Linked DNA regions of Homo sapiens. The protein of the gene in region 1 purifies or fractionates together with the protein of each later gene. This does not show direct contact. Each region holds a gene or a part of one and is shown on either strand. Other genes may lie near its edges.

Region 1 (3,500 bases):
ACAGAAAACTAGCAGAGTCTGAAATTCAGCACGGGACGTGTGGCCCAGATGGTGGTTAGCAGGGGGTCTCCTGCCAGGGAAAGGTGGGTGTGGGGAGGGGGCTCCCGGGGGAGGCAGGTGGAGGCCCGTGTCTGGCTCTGCTGCCAGGTGTTTCCTGCCCCACCCCCAGCTCCACGCCATTCATTCCTCGGTGCCGGTGCCGCAGGAGACAACTGAAGCTTGTAAACGCAGCTGGCTCTCCCTGCCGGCTACAGAGACGAGATGGGGCCCTCAGAAGGGGACTGTTGCCCGCCCAGGCCCCCTTGCCACAGACTCTGTGGACTGGGGTGGGGGACGCACAGGGGAGCCCCATCTCACAACCTGTCCCTGTAAAAACCCGGGGTGGGAACAGGGAAGCAAAGCCATTTATAAAGCTTTAAAACCATTTATGGTCCCAGGGGGCAGATAAACAATTCAGCGCTATTCTCGCCAAATTGCCTTGGCTGGCAGTGCGGAGGCTTCAGGGAGCTGGAAGAGGGGTGGGGCTCGAGTCACAAGCAGGCGGCAGAGTAGCCTCTGCCAGGCTGTTGCTGGGCCTGACCCGCATGGCTCTGCCTCCGAGGCTTGGCCTGTGCTGTTCCCAGCACCAACAGGCCCTCTCCTTCTTCTCCCAGCCCATCCTTCACAGCCCGGCTCAGAAGCTTCCTCCTCCAGGAAGTTTCCCTCGGTTCCTCCCCCATCCGTTACCACCCTGAGCAGCCAAGTCCTCCCCTGTTCTCTCAGGCACTCAGCTTTCTCAGAGCACAAGTATCCTTGGGAGCCAAAGTGTCTGTAGCCCTTCCCGTTCTCTGCCTACCCTTGGAGGGTGTCATCTGGCTTTTTCGCCTTATCACTTGATGTTTGTTTACATTTTCATAATCCTGACTTTGTTGGGTGTCTAAATCATCTGGATTCCTGGCAGGACCAATTAAAAATCCAAGTCCCCCAGAGTTGGGAGGAATCAGCGTCTAAACCCTGCCACACCCATTGTACAGATAAGAAAACTGAACCCAGGGAGAGGCCTCTGACCCAAGGTCACCCGCAAGAGTAGAGCAGGACAGAGGCCCCGCAGACTCGTATCACCTGGGCCACAGCTGAGTAGAGTCCTGGGGTCCCCAGGGAGGAGGCTGAAGGTAAGCACTCAGGGAGGGCAGCAGGTGGTCCATATTCTTCCCCCATTAAATGAAGGGGTGGGACCTGGTCCCTCTCAGCTCTGGCGTTTGAAGTTTTGAAGTTCTGTGGTGTGTATTAAAGTTCAGGAAGGCTTCCTGGGAGAGGAGGGCACGTGCTGGGCTTTGATGGCGTGGTAGGTCCGGGGGGGGGATGGGCATCCCAGAGGGTGGGGCACAGCTAGAGCAGAGGGGAGGCAGGAGGGTGGAGGCCCAGGGAGGCCGTGTTTTTGGGAGCTGCTCGGAGTGAACTGTGGTCTGATGTCAGGCTGGGCGCTGGTGGAGCTGCCAGCGGAGTGTGTGTCTGTCGGCCATGCCTGGCCCTGGGACCTGGCGCCGTCTCGGGCGTTGCTGCTCCTCGGCAGGCGTGTATCTGCAGAGCGAGGCTGAGAGGCTCCAGCTGGACCAGCCTGGGTGTTGGAGGGTGGCTGCTGACAGCCCTGGGCACCTGGCCTGAGCCGGCACCCTTCCCGTCACGCCGCCAGGCTGCTCTCCGCTGGAGGAGACCTGGGCCCAGAGGAGCTGCAGCCAGGCGGAGCCAGGGACCGGCTGCATCTCAGACCTGAGAGAGAGCTTTGCGGCGAGCGGGGCCAGCTCCCTCAGGGACCCGATGAAGGACTCAGACCCAGGGAGGGACACGGTCCTAACATCAGCACAGCACTGAGCATGGTGCAGCTGCTGTCCCACAGAACCCCTGGGGTTCTCCCATTTTATAGAGGAGGGAACTGAGGCAGAGGAATGGAGGCACTGAAGGCCCATTCTTGCAGCTAACCAGAGGCAAAGCCAGGCTGGCACTTGGGGGTTTAGCCTGGGTGTCCTGTATGGCTCCCCAGTACCTGTCCCTGAGGGAGCACCTCAGCCCAGCCATGGCCACCTACAGTCTCCATCCTCCCTGCAGTCTCAGCCTGACAGCAGTGGGAGCCCCTCCACCCAGGCCCATGCTTCCCTATGGGAAAGCAGTGGCCCCCATTGCTATCAGTAAGCCCTAGCAGTGGGCCCTCAGCCATGGCCCGTAGTGGAGGGTGGTGCTGAATTTTAATCCCTGCATGACCACAGACAACACTCGGGCACGAGCCTCCACCTCCCTCAACCCCTCCCAAGCTGTGTGAGTGCCCTCATTGATGAAGTGGGGCCATAATTACCTGGGTGCAAATAGCAAAAATGCCCTCCAGGTGACATACACACAGTAGGTGACATACACACAGCAGGAGTCACTCTGCAGGTGTCGGGGAGGGATCGGCACCTGAGTCAGGACCACAACAGCAATCTCTCCGGCAGCTGTGGCCTTCCTCGCTCCCTCCGGGGACCAGCGCCTTCTGACTCTCCAACATGTGGCTGAAAACCCCACCCGTGGCTACAGCCTGGCCACAGCCTGAGCACTCATGTCTCTACCCAAGGTCAAGCGACCAGCAGGGACCGGCCAGTGTCTCAGGCCTTAATTCCATTTCCCAGGAGAGAGGCCGGCTGGCCCAGCCTGGGGTGCACGTCCATCCCAAACCCAATAAACTGTGGCCGAAAGGACAGCAGCAGAGGGCTCAGAAGTGGCCACCAGCCTCTTGGCTCAGGGCACAAAGAAGAGGGCCATGGCTGGGCCAGCACCCCCAAACCTGCTATCAGCACAGTGTGTGCTTCCCCAAAGGAGCTGTGGCATTCAAGGCATTCACGTGGAGGAGACATGGGGTTCAGCAGTCGGGGTAGGGTGGCAGGGGCCCCAAGGTGGATGGTAGCAGCGGATCCAGCCCTGACCTGACCCAGATCCCTCATCTTACTGGTGCTGGGGCCTGGGCGGGTCATTTCTCTCCAGGCCTCGGTTTGCTCCCTAGTGGGATCATTTGAACATCAAAAAGAATCATGACTGCAGTGGACTGAAACGCATCAAATATATTTTCAAAAATCAGTGAGATTGCACTGGGCAAGTTTCCACGTAGAAAGGCAAGCTGGGGCAGACAACAGGCTGGGACCAGTAGGCACGCGGGGCCTGCAAAGGGGGCAGGGTCACTTTTGGTTCACTGAGAGGTGTGGATCTGGGCTGGCCTGTTCTCCGTCCTCTCGGCACACACACAGCCACAAACCTCAGGGCACCAGCTCATTCTGATCCCTGATAAAGGGAGGAATGGAACCTCTGAGCCTTCCCTCTGCAGGCCGCATGCTAGGGTAACCACACAGATGATAAAGGCATGTGCTTTAGAGCTTTTTCAAGAAGAACTGGAGCTCATAAACGTGGAAAGAAGGATAACATTTGGAAAGTCACTACTTTGTAACTCCTAGTGAAGTAACAGATCCAGGTCACGCACAGGATGCTGCAGCAATGGG
Region 2 (4,124 bases), about 50 Mb from region 1:
TTTGGGAGGCCGAGGAGGGTGGATTACCTGAGGTCAGGAGTTTGAGACCAGCCTGGCCCACATAGGGAAACCCCATCTCTACTAAAAATACAAAAATTAGTCAGGTGTGGTGGCTGACACCTATAATCCCAGCTACTTGGGAAGCTGAGGCAGGGAGAATCACTTGAACCGGGGAGGTGGAGGTTGCAGTGAGCTGAGATCATGCCACTGCACTCCAGCCTGGGCGACAGGGTGAGATTCTGTCTCAAACAAACAAATTTAAAAGCTCCGAATCCTCCAAAAATACCAAGATTTTCCTGTCGGTAACTAGAGATGGGTACTGATGATTATTTTTAATAGGTGATTTTCAAAGATGTGAACGTTATCCATGGAGATTTAAGTCTCCAAAAGGAAAAAAAATGCATACCTTTATACTAAAACTTCATCACCAGTCAAATTTGGATCATCACTAAATTGGCTTCTACACCTCTCTCCTAATATAAGGTACTTGTGTAAGTTTGCAGTTGTGAGACACTTATTTCCTCATTTTTAATGTCTTCTCAGTAGGGCCACTGATATAGTCACTATTTGACTGACCAGAATGGTTGGCACTGGTGATTGGCTCATAAAGTGCCCTCGATTTAGGGGGCTCAATTATCAAAGGTTTAAATCCTAGCCCAAACCATTGCTGTGATGGGGGTTAATCAATGAACCACTCAGCTTCACTTGCAAAAGCGGGATCACAATAGCCGCTTTCGTCATGACCCAGCCTAGGTGAGATTTAGTACTTAAGTACACTGCCAGGCACACAAGGTTAATTTAACAATTTAACACATTTGTTTCCTCATCCATTTCTCCAAACCTTCCAACTAATCCTAACGTTCGTTCGGCCAAATGGGCCAGGAATTCACTTAAACAAAAACAAAAAACAAAACAAACAAAAAAACACTCCCTGGGGCTTGGGGAAGGAGGCACCGCCGCCCATGTCGCAGTCTGGGGGTGGCTCAGTCCTCAGCACCCAGATCTACGGCCATAATGCTCTTCGAGGCCAAGGAGCCCGGATGCGGGGCGTTGCCGAAGGCGTCTTGCTCAGGCTGCGGGAAAGGAGAGGGGTGGGAGCGGGGTGGGGGCATCGCGACCCAGGGCAAGGCGGCGAGTCGCCGTCTTCGAGTCCCACCTGTCCGAAGCGGGGTGAGAAAAGGCAAAACATGGCAAAGCCATGCACCTCCCAGGGTGGGCAACTCACGGCCGGTGAACGCCGGACCCTTAGCAGTTTCCAGACCTTTGGAACCGGAAGCGGAGCCTGAGAGCGCGCCCGAGAGGGCGTGAACGGGACCGCTTTCCCGGAAGTGCTTGCGGCCTCTGCCCAGCGAGCTGCCCCGGGGTCTCTCTGGTTTCCTAATCAGGGCAACGCCGCGGGAGAGAACCTTTACCTTGGCTGCACTAAGTTCTCGGTGCCACTCCCTGGCAGGGCGGGACCTTGTTTAGGCCCTGTGATCGCGCGGTTCGTAGTAGCGCAAGGCGCAGAGTGGACCTTGACCCGCCTAGGGCGGGAAGAGTTTGGCCCGCCGGGTCCCAAAGGGCAGAATGGACGGGCTCCTAAATCCCAGGGAATCCTCTAAATTCATTGCAGAAAACAGTCGGGATGTGTTTATTGACAGCGGAGGCGTACGGAGGGTGGCAGAGCTGCTGCTGGCCAAGGCGGCGGGGCCAGAGCTGCGCGTGGAGGGGTGGAAAGCCCTTCATGAGCTGAACCCCAGGGCGGCCGACGAGGCCGCGGTCAACTGGGTGTTCGTGACAGACACGCTCAACTTCTCCTTTTGGTCGGAGCAGGACGAGCACAAGTGTGTGGTGAGGTACAGAGGGAAAACATACAGTGGGTACTGGTCCCTGTGCGCCGCCGTCAACAGAGCCCTCGACGAAGGTTGGTGCCATACTTGCCATCGGACCTAACGGCCTTTGAGGTTTCCATTTACTTGGGGTGTGTGTAGGGGAGTTCCAAGGAGCGGGTTGGGAGATGGAATAATGGAAAGCGAACCTGAAGTTCGTTGCAAGTCCTTATGCTTAAAATAGAAGTATGAAAAGGGGCATATTTTAGTGGAAAATGATGTTAATATTTATCATTGCAGCATAAAAGTTACAGTAGCATAAAAGTCAGTTTTATAAAGAATGCCATTTGAATGACACCTGAAGAACAAAAGGACCGATGTTATAAAGCAATTTACTCAGAATACATCTGATGTAATATTGCAATAGTTAGAAATGGGTGAATAAGTACAGATGAACAAGTAGAAAATGAGTTTTGCTTTAGATTTTTTATTCTTCCACTTTTGGTGCATTCCTATACCACTCATTTGGTTTCATATTAATTCCATGTTGTAAAAGCAAGGGTTTAATGCATATGGAAGTATGACATTGGTCCTCTGAATTTTATTTTTTCACTAAAGGGATACCAATAACTAGTGCCTCGTACTACGCGACAGTGACCCTGGATCAGGTTCGGAATATACTTCGTTCTGACACAGACGTTTCCATGCCTTTAGTAGAAGAGAGGCATCGGATTCTCAATGAAACCGGGAAAATTCTGCTGGAGAAGTTTGGAGGCTCTTTTCTCAACTGCGTCCGAGAAAGTGAGAATAGTGCGCAGAAGTTAATGCACCTGGTGGTTGAAAGTTTTCCTTCTTACAGAGATGTGACTCTGTTTGAGGTGAGTTGCTTCTGTTGGGGATTTTAGAAGTCTTAATCATCTCAGAGTTAACTCTTTTACTTCCAGAACTCATTTTAAGAATAAAAACTTAAATTTTTAAATGTATTCCTTGTGGAAGAAACTAACAAAATCAAGTAGTGTTTCAAAGTCATTTCTTATGTTTTCTTTTGTTTGTTTGTTTGAGACAGAGTTTTGCTCTTGTTGCGCAGGCTGGAGTGCAGTGGCGTGATCTTGGCTCACCGCAACCTCTGCCTCCCGGGTTCAAGCGATTCTCCTGCCTCAGCCTCCCGAGTAGCTTGGATTACAGGGATGCGCCACCAAGCCCGGCTAATTTTATGTATTTTTAGTAGAGACGGGGTTTCACTATGTTGGCCAGGCTGGTCTCAAACTCCCGACCTCAGGTAATCTGGTCGCCTCAGCCTCCCAAAGTGTTGTGATTACAGGCGTGAACCACCACGCTGGCGTCATTTCTTTCCTTTTTTTTTTTTTTTTTTTTTTTTTGAGATGGACTCTTACTCTGTCACCCAGGCTAGAGTGCAGTGGCGCGATCTTGGCTCACTGCAAACTCCGCCTCCCGGGTTCAGGTGATTCACCTGCCTCAGTCTCCCGACTAGCTGGGATTACAGGTGCCCGCCACTGCGCTAGGCTAATTTTTGTATTTTTAGTAGAGACGGGGTTTCACCATGTTGGCCAGGCTGGTCTTGAATTCCTGACCTCGTGATCCACCCACCTCGGTCTCCCAAAGTGCTGGGATTACAGGCGTGAGCCACTGTGCCGGGCCTTTTTTTTTTCTTTCCCTGAGATGGAGTCTTGCTCTGACTCCCAGGCTGGAGTGCAGTGGCACTATCTCAGCTCACTGCAACCTCCGCCTCCCGGGTTCAAGCGATTCTCCTGCCTTTGCCTCCTGAGTAGCTGGGACTACAGGCGCATGCCACCACACCTGGCTAAGTTTTTTTGTATTTTTAGTAGAGATGGAGTTTCATCTCATTTCTTATGTTTTCTAATCAATATTTCATTCTTTACTTCCTTTTTTTTCCTTTTAAAATGTTTCAAACCTAAAAAACATGGAACCCTCCATGTAATGTTCTCCTTATGGAAAATTAAGTATTTTTAGTACTTCAAGAAGGTTACTTTATTGGTTGAAGATCAGAATGTATACTAACCTCTCCCTAATAAAAAGTATTTCTGGCCAGACTCGGTGGCTCACTCCTGTAATCCCAGCACTTTGGGAGGCCTAGGTAGGTGGATCAACTGAGGTCAGGAGCTCAAGACCAGCCTAGCAACATGGTGAAACCCCATCTCTACTAAAAATACAAAAATTAGCTGGGTATGGTTGCACGCACCTGTAGTCCCAGCTACTTAGGAGGCTGAGGCAGGAGAATCGCTTGAACCCGAGAGGTGGAGGCTGCAGTGAGCCGAGATTGCACCACTGCACTCC
Region 3 (2,599 bases), on another chromosome or scaffold:
CCTATGGCTGTATTAACAAGGGGGCCATTGATTATAAAACTTGAACTCAGGTCCTTTTATAAACATTGTTGGTATTTAACTTTACTTCCCATTACTGTGGATCTAACCAAATAATTATGTGTTTTGTGTCCCTAAGTATGCTCTCATTTTTTTTGGTCTACACCCATTGGAAGCCTTTTTAATGTGACATCTTTTAGAGGAATTCTGCTGGAATAATTTCATGTTAACGAGGCTAAAGCTCAAGTCTCCCAAATTAAGTGGAATGTTCATTATCCCAAGGTGTTCATAGTCAAAAGTCCCAGTTGATAGTGAAGAAGGCCAGGACTGTAATTGAGCAGTCCTTAGCACCATTTAGCAAACTAGGTTTACTTACTACATAATATAGCTGCTTATTCACAGCATATACAGTGACACCTTATCTCTGAAAAATAATTTCCACGGAGCCACTTAGAATAAAAAAACTATTATAACTAGAAAATTGAAAAAAAAAAAAGACAGTCCACAGTTACATCAAAATGTTTATTTTTTGGATATAGACATTTAAAACATTCATCTCCAAGAACAGCTTCAATCAGGTATACAATAAGAAATAGACTTTAAATCCTAATACAGAAAAGGTAACAGAATTTTTTTGAATGCTGCTGTAGACACTAGTGTTAGAAAAAAAAGTTTATAAATGGTTTTGCACCAAAAAAATATGCAAAGAAACTTGAAAATAGAAATTGTTTGCCATTTGTTGCTCTGGTTGCTGTTTAATATAGACCCAGTGACTGATTGTCTTCAGCACACATCTAATTTGGCCATTTACTGCATTTGGCTAATGTGATCCAAAATGTGATCTAGATAGTGCTTTTCACTGGAGGATTGACAAACACGCTACATACATTAGTGAATCTTCATACCACCTCAGTGAGGTAGCTTAGAAATATTATACAGAAATTGAGGCACAAAGAGGTAAGTGACTTGCCCAAAGTTCCCAACAGCACAGTCCCTGGAAGAGGAGGTAACTCTCCACACAGGACTCATGTGCCAGAAAGCTGGACAGGGACACCCTCATGTAGCATTTAGTAAATACTTAGATAAAGCTGTAGCTGATCCTTTGAGTTTTCAGTACCCTAAAGTAGTAGGGGAAGTCTTTTGGGCAACTCTCCTACCCTTGGCTCTCAACTTTCCTACTGTTGTTCTCTTATGAACTCCTTCACCTCTTTGAAGACTGTAGCAGCCTTCAATGGGGACCAGACCTCTCACCTTTATTCTGATCTGTCATCTATTTGGTAGTTTTGTTTGTTTGAGGTGTGTCCGTTGGACAGACAATGGTCAAAAGCAACAGGATTGGGAAGGTGCCTATCAGGGTAGTAACTGCTTATTTTCTCTGATCAGTTTGTTGAGGTGTCACCTCTCTCATGCTTTTCCAGATAATACAGAAGCAAAAAGGAATTGCCTTTAAGACAAATTCATATTTAAATCCTAATGCTCCATACAGTGTTGGTAAATGATTTCAAGGAATATGTGATCAATGTTATTTGACTTGAAAAAATTTTCTTTCCTAGATGGGGGATTTGGAGCACCAAGGGTAAAAGGTGCCTGCCACAAGAAAAGCTCAAGAGTTGCCAATTATGCTGTTTACTTCTTCTGGTTTAATAGAAGGAAAACACAGTGGTATTAAAACTGGTCATGAGCAGCAAAAATTCAGGAATTAAAAAATCAGCACTAAAAAGACTACAGTATAACTGGATAGAGAATTCTTTAAAAAGAAAGGCATGAATAAAATGGGTATTTTAAATTCTTTCTCCTGCGAGGAATACTTTCAAAAAGTACATAGTAAGACTAAGATACCAAGTTGTATACTAATATTTTTCAGGCCTTGGGCCTCAAATATATATATTTATATATAATACTCCAGTGTGAACAGCAATTCGATAAAATGTAAAATGTATCTTTTTTTTTTTAAATCACACACAAGTATTCATAACCACAGGGTTCACCAGAAATCTAAAGCAAGGAGACACTCACTCATATAGAAATGGAGTTACTCTTCCACAGATCGTTCTGATCAAAGGTTTTGGAACAGAAATGAATTAATGATTTTTTTGTATAATATCCAACATGTCCACTATCAAATACATTTAGTATGAAAAAACAGATGAAGAAAAGGAACATACATTAGGACAAAGTATCTGGTTAAAATGCTGTTCATTTAAATAAAGCCCACTCTCCTTACTTTAGAGCTCCTTGGTGAAATGGAGGTGAGTTTGATGGAGTGCAGTTGATGACCACTGAAAAACACGAGCCCTTTCAACAATGTTGCAACACTGTTAGTTTTTGGTTTAAACACACACACACACTCACAAATGCTAAGTGTACACTACCAAATTCTGCGGTCAGCTTTTCCAAGAACTACTGGGGAAAGTTTCAATGCTGCAAATCCTCGAGGTTGCCCTAACACCCCCACCTTGTTTCCAAATGACTCATTTCACATTTTGTTTTGAGCACTGGCAGTATCCCTTTACAATGCAGAGGTGCAGTGTAGCACAAGTGCTACATAGCTGTAGTTTTCAAACAAAACCACTTATATCATTGTGCTTAAGTGGAGACTGTA
Region 4 (3,500 bases), on another chromosome or scaffold:
GTTTGTGGAGAACAAAGTAGCAACAAAGATCAAGGTACCAAAGCGGATATGGACCTATAATCATGTCCTTTCGTTAAGGAGTCTGAAAGACTTAACTGAGTCAGGCGGCTTGAGTGAGGAACCAGAAGATAAGGCTGGGAAGAAGGTTGCAGTTGGATTTGAAGGACTTGGAATTTGGATTTTTATCCCATTAGGCTTGAGGAAACAAAGTTTTGAGGAGTACCGAAATGATGAAAACAATGTAGGGAGGTAAGTTAGGAGGTATTGCACTTATCCAAGCAAGAGCTGATGAGGGTCTGGAGCTAGCCCAGATCTTCCCTAAGCGCCTACCCATACACCAGTATCAATAGTGGGTATGAAGAAACAACATCAAATGTGTTAGGATGTCTCAGAATGTCTTTCATCTTGTATTTAGGAAAGAATACTTTGGACACATGGCTTGCACTGCAGGAGTGGTATCCTTACCCACTTGGATATTAAATAAACCATTTATGCAATAAATGAACAAAAAGTAGGAAAGTCAGGAGAGGGCGGTAGCTTTGGTAAAGGTATCCTGTTTGGCTTCCGATTTGTTGAGGTAACCGAGGGACATCTGCCTGGAAATGCAGTTGGAAATGTGGCAGCAACATCTGAAGGCAAGGAACAGATTTGTCAGCTTTCTTCACAGAGATGATGGTTGAAAGCTCTTTGCTCTTTATGAGAACTAAAGCTTAGAAAAAGTAGTTGAGATGGGACTTCATTTAAAAAGCCTTCCCTAGAAGGTTTCTATAACAGTGACCTCCTGAAAGCCAAACCCAAAGGCTGGTTTTCAGACCTTGATCTCTTAGCAGTTGTGCAGTGTTTTACATGTGTAATGGTTTGAATGTGGTTCCTCCCACATCGCAGGAGGGCGATTTGGCAGTATATGTATATATTTTTGGGGGGGGACGGAGTCTTGCTCTGTCGCCCAGGCTGCAGTTCAGTGGCTCGATCTCTGCTAACTGCAACCTCCGCCTCCCGGGTTCAAGCGATTCTCCTGTCTCAGCCTCCCGAGTAGCTGGGATTACAGGTGCATGCTACCATGCCCAGCTGATTTTCACTATGTTGGCCTGGCTGGTCTCCAACTCTTGACCTCAGGTGATCCACCTGCCCCCGCCCCTCAAAGTGCTGGGATTACAGGTGTGAGCCACTGCGCCTGGCGGTAGTATATTTCAAATGGTTATTCTCCATACCCAGTAGCTTTGTTTTTTATCCAAAGAAAATGATCAGAGGGATAATCAAGTACTTTTAGATAGTGCTATGATGAGTGTCTCTTATAGAGTAGAGAAATACCCTAGTTAAATCCATTTAAGGAAATACTATGCAGCCATAAATATCATGTTTTAGTAGAATATTTAAAGGCATCAAAATGCTTGTAACATTAAGTGGAAAAATCAGATTATAACAATATATAAACAGTGCAACCCCAGATTTGCTTTTAAAATGTACATTTGTATGCAGAATATTGATGGTAGTTATTTTTGAATATTATGTTGGACTTAAGATTGACTTTCATTTTCTTCCTTAAAACGTCAAACTTTGGCCGGGTGCAGTGGCTCACGCCTGTAATCCCAGCACTTTGGGAGGCCGAGGCGGGCGGATCGCGAGGTCAGGAGATCGAGACCATCCTGGCTAACACAGTAAAACCCCGTCTCTACTAAAAATACAAAAAATTAGCCGGGCGAGGTGGTGGGCGCCTGTAGTCCCAGCTACTTGGGAGGCTGAGGCAGGAGAATGGCGTGAACCCTGGGGGCCGGAGCCTGCAGTGAGCCGAGATTGTGCCACTGCACTCCAGCCTGGGCGACAGCGAGACTCTGTCTCAAAAAACAACAACAACAAAACAAGAACAAAAACAAAAAACTTCAAACTTTTACCATGGGTACATATTACTGTTCAAGTTAGAGAAGAAGAAAAGAAGGCTTTTTTTTTTCTTTTTTTAAAAGCAAAGACCATAAATATGTTACTAAAGAAACAAAGGGAAAAATAGTTTCCTCCTGTGACCTCCATAACTTCATCCTTTTTGTGTTTCCTTTACTCCTTGGCTGACTCCTTTTTCTCTTGCTTCCTGGCAAAATTGAGGCCACTGTTTGAGATAAAGCATTATGGACCCGTAGCTCAGTTCATATAAAAATCAATTCCAGGGTTGAAACATATAGCTACATGTTCTAGATTTAGAAGTTATGAGGAATTAATGAACAGGAATTATTTCCAATTCAAATACATTTCCCTCTGAGAAAGTAGTGAAGGAATCTCTAAGTCCACGATTTAGGTAGAGTCCCACCTTCTAGCAGGTGAGTCTCTCTGCCTGCCTGTCTCTGGTCAGCCTTCTGGCTTTTACTTTGTCATCTGCTTTATCTGCAGGGTTATCACTGTTCTTTAGAGCCAATCCCTGGAGGTGTGGAAATGCCACTTGAGTGCACAGGTTTCTATCAATTTTCCTGGAAAGGTGATAACATAAGCCATGTGTCCATGATAGGAGATGTTCCCAGTCTTCTAACCAAATTTATACTATCCTTTTTGCAAAACTGGAGGGCAGGTTTCTTTCTCTGTAGCAGTTGACACAACTGAATCACAAAGTGCCCTGGCTGAGACCTCGGAAGAGTTCCAGCCCTTTACAGGTAGTCATAGAAGCTTATTATCCTGCAGGTTTTGGAGAAAATGGTGTTTTTTGCTGATTAATGAGGCTTTGGTAAACACAGTAGTTAGAAAGGACATGGAAGGCTTTCTACTAGTCCCATGTTTGCTGGACACTGGGGAAACAAGTTGAATAAACCATCGATTCTGTCTAGAGGAGCTCCCAGTCAAGTTGGAGGACATAGGAGTAGAAGTATGGCTTTATCTGTCACAAAGAGAGATGCATGCTTATGAGAGGTACTGAGGAGTCATAGCTAGAACAGATTACCTGACCAGATGAGTAGGATCTTAGAAAGGGTCTTACAATAATTAAATTATGTTGGAGTTCAAAATGAATGCTTTCAAGGAATTCTAAATTAAGGGCCAGGGCAAGAATCTTTGTCTTATCCTAGTGGCTTTTGTTGTTGACTGCTTGATTGATGGAGAAGATCTCACTATGTTGCCCAGGTTGGACTCAAACTCCTGGGCACAAGCAATCCTCCCACCTTGGGCTTCCAAAGTGCCCGGATCACAGATGTGAGCCACCACGCCAAGCCCTTGGTGGCTTTTGGATATGGCTAAACTCAGTTGCACTTCTGAATAGGAGCCAGAAAAATATTCTAAAGTGGTATGATAGCACATGATAACCTCTATCTCCTTAAACCAGACTTTTTGTTATTGACTGCCCTTCCAGGGGTGGGTGATAATGCTTATCCTTGAAAAAGTTAACCTTCAGCTGAAGCTGCATATGCTTATTACAATGCAAATCTGATTCTAGTCACTTGATAAACTCCTTCAGTTTTTCACCTTAACGTTTGGATAAAATCTAAGCTTCTAGAAGCTCGGCTGTTGTTCAGCTTTTCAGCTCA

What was found. The genes of interacting proteins can lie anywhere in the genome.
Region 2: the proteins of FAM163B (region 1) and QNG1 purify together in Homo sapiens (affinity purification with mass spectrometry; one large-scale study listed by BioGRID and IntAct). This does not show direct contact.
Region 3: the proteins of FAM163B (region 1) and PLXNC1 purify together in Homo sapiens (affinity purification with mass spectrometry; one large-scale study listed by BioGRID and IntAct). This does not show direct contact.
Region 4: the proteins of FAM163B (region 1) and CCNB2 purify together in Homo sapiens (affinity purification with mass spectrometry; one large-scale study listed by BioGRID and IntAct). This does not show direct contact.

Annotation. Positions count from the first base shown.
Region 1 is NC_000009.12:133,581,890-133,585,389, reverse strand, and holds part of FAM163B (protein FAM163B), read left to right. Parts: intron 1-514; exon of another isoform or gene 515-1,151; intron 1,152-3,050; exon of another isoform or gene 3,051-3,500.
Region 2 is NC_000009.12:83,953,943-83,958,066, reverse strand, and holds the start of QNG1 (queuosine 5'-phosphate N-glycosylase/hydrolase), read left to right. Parts: upstream 1-1,324; 5' UTR 1,325-1,566; coding exon 1,567-1,903; intron 1,904-2,426; coding exon 2,427-2,686; intron 2,687-4,124.
Region 3 is NC_000012.12:94,305,577-94,308,175, reverse strand, and holds the end of PLXNC1 (plexin-C1 precursor), read right to left. Parts: 3' UTR 501-2,599; downstream 1-500.
Region 4 is NC_000015.10:59,108,146-59,111,645, forward strand, and holds part of CCNB2 (G2/mitotic-specific cyclin-B2), read left to right. Parts: intron 1-3,500. UniProt on the Homo sapiens protein: Essential for the control of the cell cycle at the G2/M (mitosis) transition.